2 linked regions of the Homo sapiens genome follow. The protein of the gene in region 2 purifies or fractionates together with the protein of the main gene of each other region. This does not show direct contact. Each region holds a gene or a part of one and is shown on either strand. Other genes may lie near its edges.

What was found. Proteins that work in one complex are often made in the same cells at the same time.
Region 1: the proteins of IFNAR1 (region 2) and TNFRSF10B purify together in Homo sapiens (affinity purification with mass spectrometry; one large-scale study listed by BioGRID and IntAct). This does not show direct contact.

The regions. Positions count from the first base shown.
Region 1 is NC_000008.11:23,027,532-23,031,869, forward strand, and holds part of TNFRSF10B (tumor necrosis factor receptor superfamily member 10B isoform 1 precursor), read right to left. Parts: intron 3,342-4,338; coding exon 3,228-3,341; intron 2,191-3,227; coding exon 2,079-2,190; intron 1,072-2,078; coding exon 800-1,071; intron 223-799; coding exon 191-222; intron 1-190. UniProt on the Homo sapiens protein: Receptor for the cytotoxic ligand TNFSF10/TRAIL. The adapter molecule FADD recruits caspase-8 to the activated receptor.
Region 2 is NC_000021.9:33,344,570-33,349,746, reverse strand, and holds part of IFNAR1 (interferon alpha/beta receptor 1 isoform 2 precursor), read right to left. Parts: intron 4,502-5,177; coding exon 4,387-4,501; intron 657-4,386; coding exon 457-656; intron 359-456; coding exon 204-358; intron 1-203. UniProt on the Homo sapiens protein: Together with IFNAR2, forms the heterodimeric receptor for type I interferons (including interferons alpha, beta, epsilon, omega and kappa).

The DNA of each region.
Region 1 (4,338 bases), on a different chromosome or scaffold from region 2:
GCAGGGCTCACCAGCCTATGTGGTGCTCAAAATGGCCATGTGTCCCCCACAGTCAGCCCAGAGCACCCAGGCCACTTCAGAGAGTCAGGGCAGCCATGAGGACAATGGGGACCCACCCACCCAGGTTCTGCTGTCCCAGGAAGCAGTTCCTGAACCCCTGAGCCCCCAGCTCCTGGAGAAATCAACTCACTCTGTCCACACGCTCAGGGTCCCCACCACCACCTAAAAAAGAAGCAGTCTCCTTAGCAGGAAGGGAGGGGCCCATGAAGCACCCCCCTCCCAGAGGACAGTGGGGCGCAGGGCTGGGCTGGGGGCTGGGACACTGGACAAGGAGCCCTGGGGCTGGGGACAGAATGGGGCCTTACAACTCAGAGACACCCTGAGGAAGGGGGATGAGAAGGGGAACTAGAGTAAAAACAAACACTTGGAAAATCTCTGGTTCTGCTCTGACCAAGGCTGAAAAAATCCCACGACCACTTCTCATCCTCACCCTTGTCACCCAGTTGAGGAGCCGACTGCCCCCTGCCTGGCTGGGCCTGAAGATGGGAGGAACTGGCCCTGCCCTCCTGGACTTGGCTGGGAGATATGGGGACCCCCAGACCTGGGAGAGGGACTGAAGAGACCAGGGTCCTGGGGGGTGCACGGGATGTGGGGATGGGGGTGACCACGAGGAGGAGGATAGAGCCAGGCTGGAGGCACTTAGACTTGGGGCAGGGGCAGGCGTTTCTGTCTGTGGGAATAGGGTGGGAGGGGGCAGGGCAGAGAGTGCCCTGTGCCCCCGCCCTCAGCCAGCACCTACCTGAGCAGATGCCTTTCAGGTAAGGAAGGACTTTCTTCCACAGTAAAGACTTGCAAACAAACACAGCCACAATCAAGACTACGGCTGCAACTGTGACTCCTATGATGATGCCTGAGAGAGAACAGGGAGAGGCAGGAGTCCCTGGGCTGGAGGTCACCGTCTCCTCCACAGCTGGGACTTCCCCACTGTGCTTTGTACCTGATTCTTTGTGGACACATTCGATGTCACTCCAGGGTGTACAATCACCGACCTTGACCATCCCTCTGGGACACCTGGGTACACACACAGAGGGAGAGGGGGGACTCTTGATGGAAAGCTGGCCAGGTGGGATGAAAGAGGAGCCACCCTCCCTCCCCAGTGTCCCTGAGAAGGTGTCAGGGGAAGGACAGTCTCCTCGTGTCAGCAGTGGGTCCCCCTGTGCTCCCTTCTTGAGGCTGGGGAAGGGTCTGAGCATGCGCACTTCAGCCCCTCGGCCTCCCTGCTCTGGGGTCAGAGCTGCAGTTCCAGGAGCCTTCTGTGCTGGGCACACACTGAGCTTCCCTGGGCTGCAGGGGAGGCCTGCGTTAGGAGCAATCACACTCCAGGGGAAGGTCACAAGCCCGTGTGGCCACAAGATGAGTCCGGTCTTCCAGTCAACCACAAAAGTGAGCTCTTGTCCCCAGCTGTCTGCCCATTTCCCCCAATCACAGCAAATACTAGGGGGGCCAGAGAAGAGCAAATTACTCTTGGCCCCTAAAACCCAAATAGGGAAAAGACAGGTCTTACTGAGGGATCAGGGGCCAGGGGTGAGGCCGGCTGGGTGGGCTCAGGTCCTCATGGGAACTTGAAGGAGCTCCACCCATGGCCTTATTATGCCTTTTGTGGGCCATGGGCACTTTTGTCTTTATGGGCCCCTGCATGCATAAAAATATTAAAAAATACATTTTATTGCTGAATTGGTATAAAGATGAATATATGCCTGGCTGCATTCTACTCATTCTTCTTATTTCAAGAGAAATTAAATCATTTCATGGGCCCCTAAAATTATCATGGGCCCCAAGTCATGGCCTTCTGTGGTCAGTGAACAAGTCAGCCTGGTCAAGGGGACTCGTGCTGGGGAGGGGTGGAAAGAGGCTGCTGCAGGGGGCAGGGGTGGTGACACGCAGAGGGACCAGGAGGGGCAGCCACAGCCTCAAGGATGCCCCTTGCGGGTGCTGTCAGGGGAGAGACAGGGGTACAAGGAGACTTGGGTCTTTTGGGGTTCCATGGAGCTACTGGGAGCCCCCGGCTCCTGTCTCACCCTGTGCGGCACTTCCGGCACATCTCAGGAGAATCTTCTTCCCGGAAGGTGCCTTCTTCGCACTGACACACTGTGTTTCTGGTCGTGGTGCAGGGACTTAGCTCCACTTCACCTGACGACAGAGCATAAGGTTTTGGGAATGTGTTTTCCTGATGTGTCCCTTGACCCTTCCTCCCCACCCCAAGACCCTGCTACTCAGCTCAACTCAGTTTGCCAAGGAGTTCTGAGGGCCAGTTTCTGCACCAGCACACTCATGGCTCATTCAGGATACCCACCCTTCAGCTGTCACTAACACTCGTTGAGTCATACAAAAGGACCACAGTTCATTATTTATTACATTAGATTAGGGGAAAGCACCGTTTAGGGGACAAGCATCGTTTAGATTGCATGGCCAGTAGCAAGGGAAGTGCAAGGGATCACCTGAGAGACTGCAAGGAGAGGAGCCCTTGGGGGACTTCCCCAAGGCCCAGCCTGCTGGGGAGGAGGGAGAGGCCTGAGAACCTGAAGGGTGAGTGAGGCCGAGCACCTGCCAGGAGCACAGAGCCCAGGGGAGAGAGCCTGGCCCCAAAGCAGACCTGTGCCACTGCTGAGATCCAGCCCTGTCCACTTGGCCTGGCTCATGGCCCCACCCCCTTGCAGCTGACAGTTTAAAAGATTTCCTTACCATGTAGCATACATTATACAAATAATTTCTGTATTATTATTATTTTAATTAATTATTGAGACAGGGTTTTGCTCTGTTGCCTGGGCTGGAATGCAGTGGCACAATCTCGGCTCCCTGCAACCTCGGCCTCCTGGGCTCAAGAGATCCTTCTGCCTCAGCTTCCTAAGTAGCTGGAAATACAGGCACGCGCCACCATGCCCGGCTAATGTTTATATTTTTGTAGAGACGGGGTTTCTCATGTTGCCCAGGATGGTTTCAAACTCCTGGGCTCAAGTGATGCCTCCCAAAGTGTTGAGATTACAGGCATGAGCCACTGTGCCGGGCCTGTTTTATTTATTAAAAAGCTCAAAGACAAAATCATGGAACATGGTATGATGAAGACCAAGGTGGACCAGAATCTAGGTCTCCTGATCCCATTTTAGCTACAACTTTTATGTCATCACCCCGCATTCCACCTTTAGGCATGGGGTCCATATGTTCTGTACCTGAATCACACCTGGTGCAGCGCAAGCAGAAAAGGAGGTCATTCCAGTGAGTGCTATAGTCCTGTCCATATTTGCAGGAGATGCAATCTCTACCGTCTTCTGAGATATGGTGTCCTGGGAGGGGAGAGAAAAGCCGGTGAATGAAATGCCACAGGATTCCCAGAAGCTGGCAGTGGTGGCTGGGGGACTCCTCTTTCAGGGATGTGTGGAACCAAAAGAGGGAAATCTCCTCTACCTAGCTTGGTCAGTTCATCAATTCTGCATTTACACACCTTAAACCAGCACTGCCAAAAGAAATATAAGCCACACATTTATTTATTTTATTTTTTATTTTTGAGACGTAGTCTCACTCTGTCACCCAGGCTGGAGTGCAGTGGCGTGATCTCGGCTCACTGCAACCTCCGCCTCCTGGGTTCAAGAGATTCTCCTGGCTCAGCCTCCTGAGTAGCTGGGATTACAGGCACACACTACCACACCTGGCTAATTTTTGTATTTTTTTAGTAGAGACAGGGTTTCACCGTATTGGCCAGGCTAGTCTCGATCTCCTGACCTCATGATCTGCCTGCCTAGGCCTCCCAAAGTGCTGGGATTACAGGCGTGAGCCACTGCACCCGGCCTATTTATTTATTTATTTATTTATTTATTTATTTATTTAGACAGGGTCTTGCTCTATAGCCCAGGCTGGAGTGCAGTGGTGTGATCTCAGCTCACTGCACCCTCGACCTCCCGGACCCTCCCTCTCCCCCCGACCCACAAATAGCTGGGACTACAGGTGCACACCACCACACCGGGTTAATTTTTAGTGTACTTTTTTTTTGTAGAGACGAGGTTTCACCATGTTGCCTAGGCTGGTCTCAAACTCCTGGGCTCAAGTGATTCACTCTCCTTGGACTCCCAAGGTGCTAGGAATACAGGTGTCAGCCACTGTGCCCAGCCCACATATGAAATTTAAATCCACACTCAGCACATTAAAAAAGGTGAGAAGGGGTGAAATTAATGTTAATAATGCATTTTAATTTAATGTACCCCAGATAATATCACTTAAATATGTAATCCACATAAAACATTGAGATATTTTACAGCATTTTTTTCACAGTACGTCTTCAAATCC
Region 2 (5,177 bases):
CCCTATGTTGCCCAGGCTGGTCTCAAACCCTTAGGCTCAAGTGATCCTCTCGCCTTGGCCTCCTGAAGTGCTGGGATTACAGGCCACTGCATCCAGCCCACATAAAGTTTAAAAATTTCCCCCAAATTTTACATTCAAGCTTTATTTACCCAAATCATAATTATAACTCTAAGTTACAAAATTATACTATACAGTCTTTTTACCTCAGCATTTGAAGTGTTTTCCCAAAAAATAATTTCATAAATCAGTGGATAATCCTGGATCACAGGCGTGTTTCCAGACTGTTTTGGAGCACCGATATAGATATGGAATGAATCACTAAGGGATCTAATGTTAAAGACTGGAGGAAGTAGGAAAGCTAGAAAAAATTTGTAAAGAAATAATGTTCAATTAGAAAAACAATTTTAAAAACTTGCACCAGAGAATTACAATCTCCAGTAAAAACTACTGCCTTACCTTGTATTTCAGTATCAAACTTTATCTCTTCAGACCAAAAAGATGTGTTATTTCCATCAGATGCTTGTACGCGGAGAAGGTAAATTCCTTTTTGGAAAACGTTTTGAGGAAAGACACACTGGGTAGTTTTGACATTTTCACAGTCAGGTATTTGTTTCCATTTATACAAATGGTTTCCAGGATTCCTTTTTAAAAAGGCGCTTTTAAGACAAATATTTTTTAAATTCATTAGATATTTATTAAGTATTTACAATTGCCAGACACTATGTTAGGGGCTAAGGTTACAGAAATAAATAGTATCCACACTCAGGAAACTCACAAACAATGGAAGAGATATGCATCTAACATAAAAGAAAACCAAAGACTGTTCCAGACTGTGGTCATGTTGTGCTCTGCTGGAGGTGGCTCATATCAATATGCAAGAACATCTGTTAGTTAGAATTTCCAGGAATGCTGCAAGCTGGTTTATTTTTTTTGGCTTTTTTTTTGAGACCGAGTCTCGCTCTGTCACCCAGGCTGGAGTGGAGTGGTAGGATCTTGGCTCACTGCAACCTCTGCCTCCTGGGTTCAAGCAATTCTCCTGCCTCTGTCCCCCTGAGTAGCTGGGATTACAGGTGCACGCCACCAGGCCTGCCTAATTTTTGTATTTTTAGTAGAGATGGGGTTTCGTCATGTTGGCCAGGCTGGTCTTGAACTCCTGACCTCAGGTGATCCACCTACCTCGGCCTCCTAAAATACAAACTGGTTTTTAAAGAAAAACCATTACTAAAAATTAAGTTATATAAATTTGCAAATAAAAAATTGTTTTAAAGACAGAGGTAATAAATAAATTCATCTTGTCCTAATTATTTTACTACATTTTATTTTCTAAGCTCTTGGGGCTATCTTTATCTATTGTAGCTATATGATAGTGGTGTGCTACTGTGCATATGTTCCCAACTCCATATTCAGGGACATCAGGCTGGTGGCTTGAAAGTGGCCATGGTGGGAATATTTATATCATAAAAATCAGCAAACACTACAAAATAGGACTTTTTCTTTCTGGAAAGCCAGCTGCTAAACATGCGCCAGCATACCAATGGACACTGATTAAGTGCTAAAATAGAGACACACTGCGGGGTTATAAGAGCAAGTATAAGTACGAGACTAAAGAGGTTAAGTAACTTGCCCAGAAACCAACAGCTAAAAGCATCTCAGTTCAAGCCCAGAACTCTAATAGCCTCCTGACTGGTTTCCTTATCTCTCTTTAGTGTCTCCTTAGTCCACTCTCCCACATACCATGTCGCCGCATGCACCTTCCTCAAATCCAGAGCTCAGGTTAACTATCACCCCAACACAAAATCCCCAAAAGCCTACAGGACAGCCTGAGGTTGACCCTAATCTTGTCCCATTCTACTTATTCAGCTTTCTTCCCATTGCCACCTGGTGTCCAAATGTTCTGCTACTCTAGAAGGACATCCTCCCCACTGGAGAAGGCAAAATTCTGAGATGGCCCCCAAGATTCCTGCCCCCTGGTGTACACATCCTGTATAATCCCCTCCTCTTGAGCATGGGCAGGACCTGTAAATACGATGGAGGCCCTCCTCTCATAATTAGGTTACATTAAGTGGCAGAAGAGAAGGTATTTCACAGATGTAATTAAGGTCCCAAATCAGTTGAATCAAATGAGAGACTATTCTGGGTGGGCCTGACCTAATCAGATGAACCCCTTAAAAGAGGATCTAGGCCAGGCATGGTGGCTCATGCCTCTAATCCCAGCACTTTGGGAGGCTGAGGTGGGCAGATCACTTGGGGCCAGGAGTTTGCGAACAGCCTGGCAAACATGGAGAAACTCCGTCTCTACTAAAAATACAAAAAAAATGGCTGAGCGCGGTGCCTCACGCCTATAATCCCAGAACTTTGGGAGGCTGAGGCGGGTGGATCACCTGAAGTCAGGAGTTCGAGACCAGCCTGGCCAATACGGTGAAACCCCGTTTCTACTAAAACTACAAAAATTAGCTGGGTGTGGTGGTGCACACCTGTAGTCCCAGCTACTTGGGAGGCTGAGGCAGAAGAATCACTTGAACCCAGGACGCGGAGGTTGCAGTGAGCTGAGATCATGTCACTGCACTCCAGTCTGGGTGACAGAGTGAGACTCCGTCTCAAAAAAAAAAAAAAAAGGATCTAGAGGTCAGACTCTCCCTTCCTGATGGCCTCTAAGAAGTGAGCCACCATGAGCTCTAGAAATAAATTCTGCCAACAACATGTGAGCTTGGGAGCGGCCCCCAAGTCTTGTATGAATGACTGACTCCTTGACTGCTTAGCAGAAGAGCCAGCTAAGCCACGCTTGGACTCCTGACTCACAGAAACTTTGAGACAATAAACAGCTGTTTAAGTTGCTAAGTCTGTGGTAATTAGTTACAGACACAGAAAACTAACATCTAATAGTTGTCTACTTAAAAAAAATCTGAATTAACAATCAAGGCCTTGTTCATACCTTATCTCTTTCCTTATGGCTTCTTTGGTCTCTTTAGCCCCTATTCACCTTTACATTTTCAATTTCTGCAACCCTTATAATTTGTATACCACTCTTTAGTCCTAAACCACACAACACTTTGCAATGTTGGCTAACTGCTTTCAATTTTTGAACCACGTTTGATTCTGCTGACTCTTTCCATTTCTTCAGTGCTTTGTACAATATGGTAAGTACCCAAAAGAAGCTTAGAGATCAGCTATCAGAAATACCTCTCATTATCTATTTGGTGACCCTATTATTTATTCACTTCTGAAAGTGAGGTATACACAAAAGACTACTGAACAGTTTCCTGATTGGTTTGTGAGGTTATATATGCATTGTGGGGCACATATGCACATAAATGCATTTGCATTCTACCAGTCACCCTTGGTTCAAAATTAACACTAAAAGATAGAAATTGATCATAGCGGTACTTACACTTCCCTTCTCCCTCATTTTTTCTGTTTCTTTCCAGTTTCTTCTGACTTTTCCTTTCCTGTCTTAGCTATACTTGCCTTTGCTCTCTCTACTCCTCTGCCACCAATGTATATCTTTCTTTCCATCTCTTTTCTCCCCATAACCCATTTTTCCTTCTACTTAATTTTCCTCTTCTCTTTTCTCTATTCATCTCCTACAATTTTCCAATCAATATAAACTACATGCAGTTCTCTTTTATCAGCTTTTTAAAAATTTTAATGCTTAGAGATGGGGGTCTCACTATGTTGCCCAGGCTGCAGTGCAGCGGCTACTAGCAGGTGTGATCATACAACACTGCAGCCTCAATTCCTGGCCTCAAGTAATCCTCCTGCCTCAGCCCACTGAGTAGCTGGGACGATAGGCATGCGCCACTGCACCAGGCCAGTTCTCTTTCATTTATGCAGCGCCTGGACTTCATCCATGTTTAGCTAGCCTCTGCTCAACCACATAGAACATAGTTCTTTCCAACTTTCTTTCCCACCGAAGTATCTACTACAAAATTTTGTCAAAACCACTAAAGTAATAAAGAAAATAGGAAGGCTAATTTTTTGAATTGAACAAGTGAGTGGACTGAGATCATTTTAAGGACTCATGGAAGAAGTGAGTTCTTAGAAAAAGATCAGGGTCAACTGTCGAGTCTTCCAGATTGGGGAAATAACACATGCAACTAGTTACACTTTCTTTTTTTTCTTAAGCCAGTAAGAACCCCAGATATTAGAATCCATCTATTTTACAAGTGAAGAAATTGAGGCCCATGGAGGTTAAGCGATTAGCTCAATGTCATCCAGTTAGTTACTGGCAGAACTGGGGTTAGAAATGAGATTTCTCACGTTTCCAATATATCGTACCCACCTCCCAGTCGGTCATTCTGTGTGCAAGGACCTGGTGACTGATGCAGAGCGAAAAGAAGCATAATCAAAACAAACTGGGCAAAAGGAAATTTATGGAATGGAACTTACTGGAGCCACTGAACTTGAAAGGTCATGTTTGCATATGTATAATCCCATTTAAGAACATAGTTCTGATTTTGGACACTGACTTCTATATTTTCTGGTGGAGGTAGTTCATTTTCAACTAGAAGCCAAAGAACAGATAAAAAAAAGCACACATTTTTACTCAAGTGAGATAACTGGCAAGAAGATAAAGGCTCGCATTTTATCATTATAAGGTAATAGTTAAATATGGTTTGTATTCACACTATGTAATACTATGCAGCCATTTGAAAGACTACAGGCCGGGCGCAGTGGCTCACACCTGTAATCCCAGAACTTTGGGAGGCTGAGGTGGATGGATCACCTGAGGTCAGGAGTTCGAGACGCGCCTGGCCAACATGGTGAAACCCCATTTCTACTAAAAATACAAAAATTAGCCAGGCATGATGGCACACGCCTGTAATCCCAGCTACTCGGGAGGCTGAGGCAGGAGAATCGCTTGAAGCTGGGAGGCAGAGGTTGCGGTGAGCCGAGATTGAGCCACTGCACTCCATTCTGGGCAAGAGAGTGAGACTCTGTCTCAAAAATAAATAAATAAATAAATAAATAAATAAATAAATAAGTAAAAAAGAAAGAATGCAATAGATGGCTAAGATCAAATGAAGAACGTAATAGATCTGTATTGAGTGATATAGAATATCCCCAACACACTGGGTTAAGTAAGCAAGCTGTAAAATACTTCTAGTAAGATTTTATTTTGTAATTTTAAAAAACAAAACCCAAGAAACTGTGGGTCTGTGTATATGCTTACATAAATC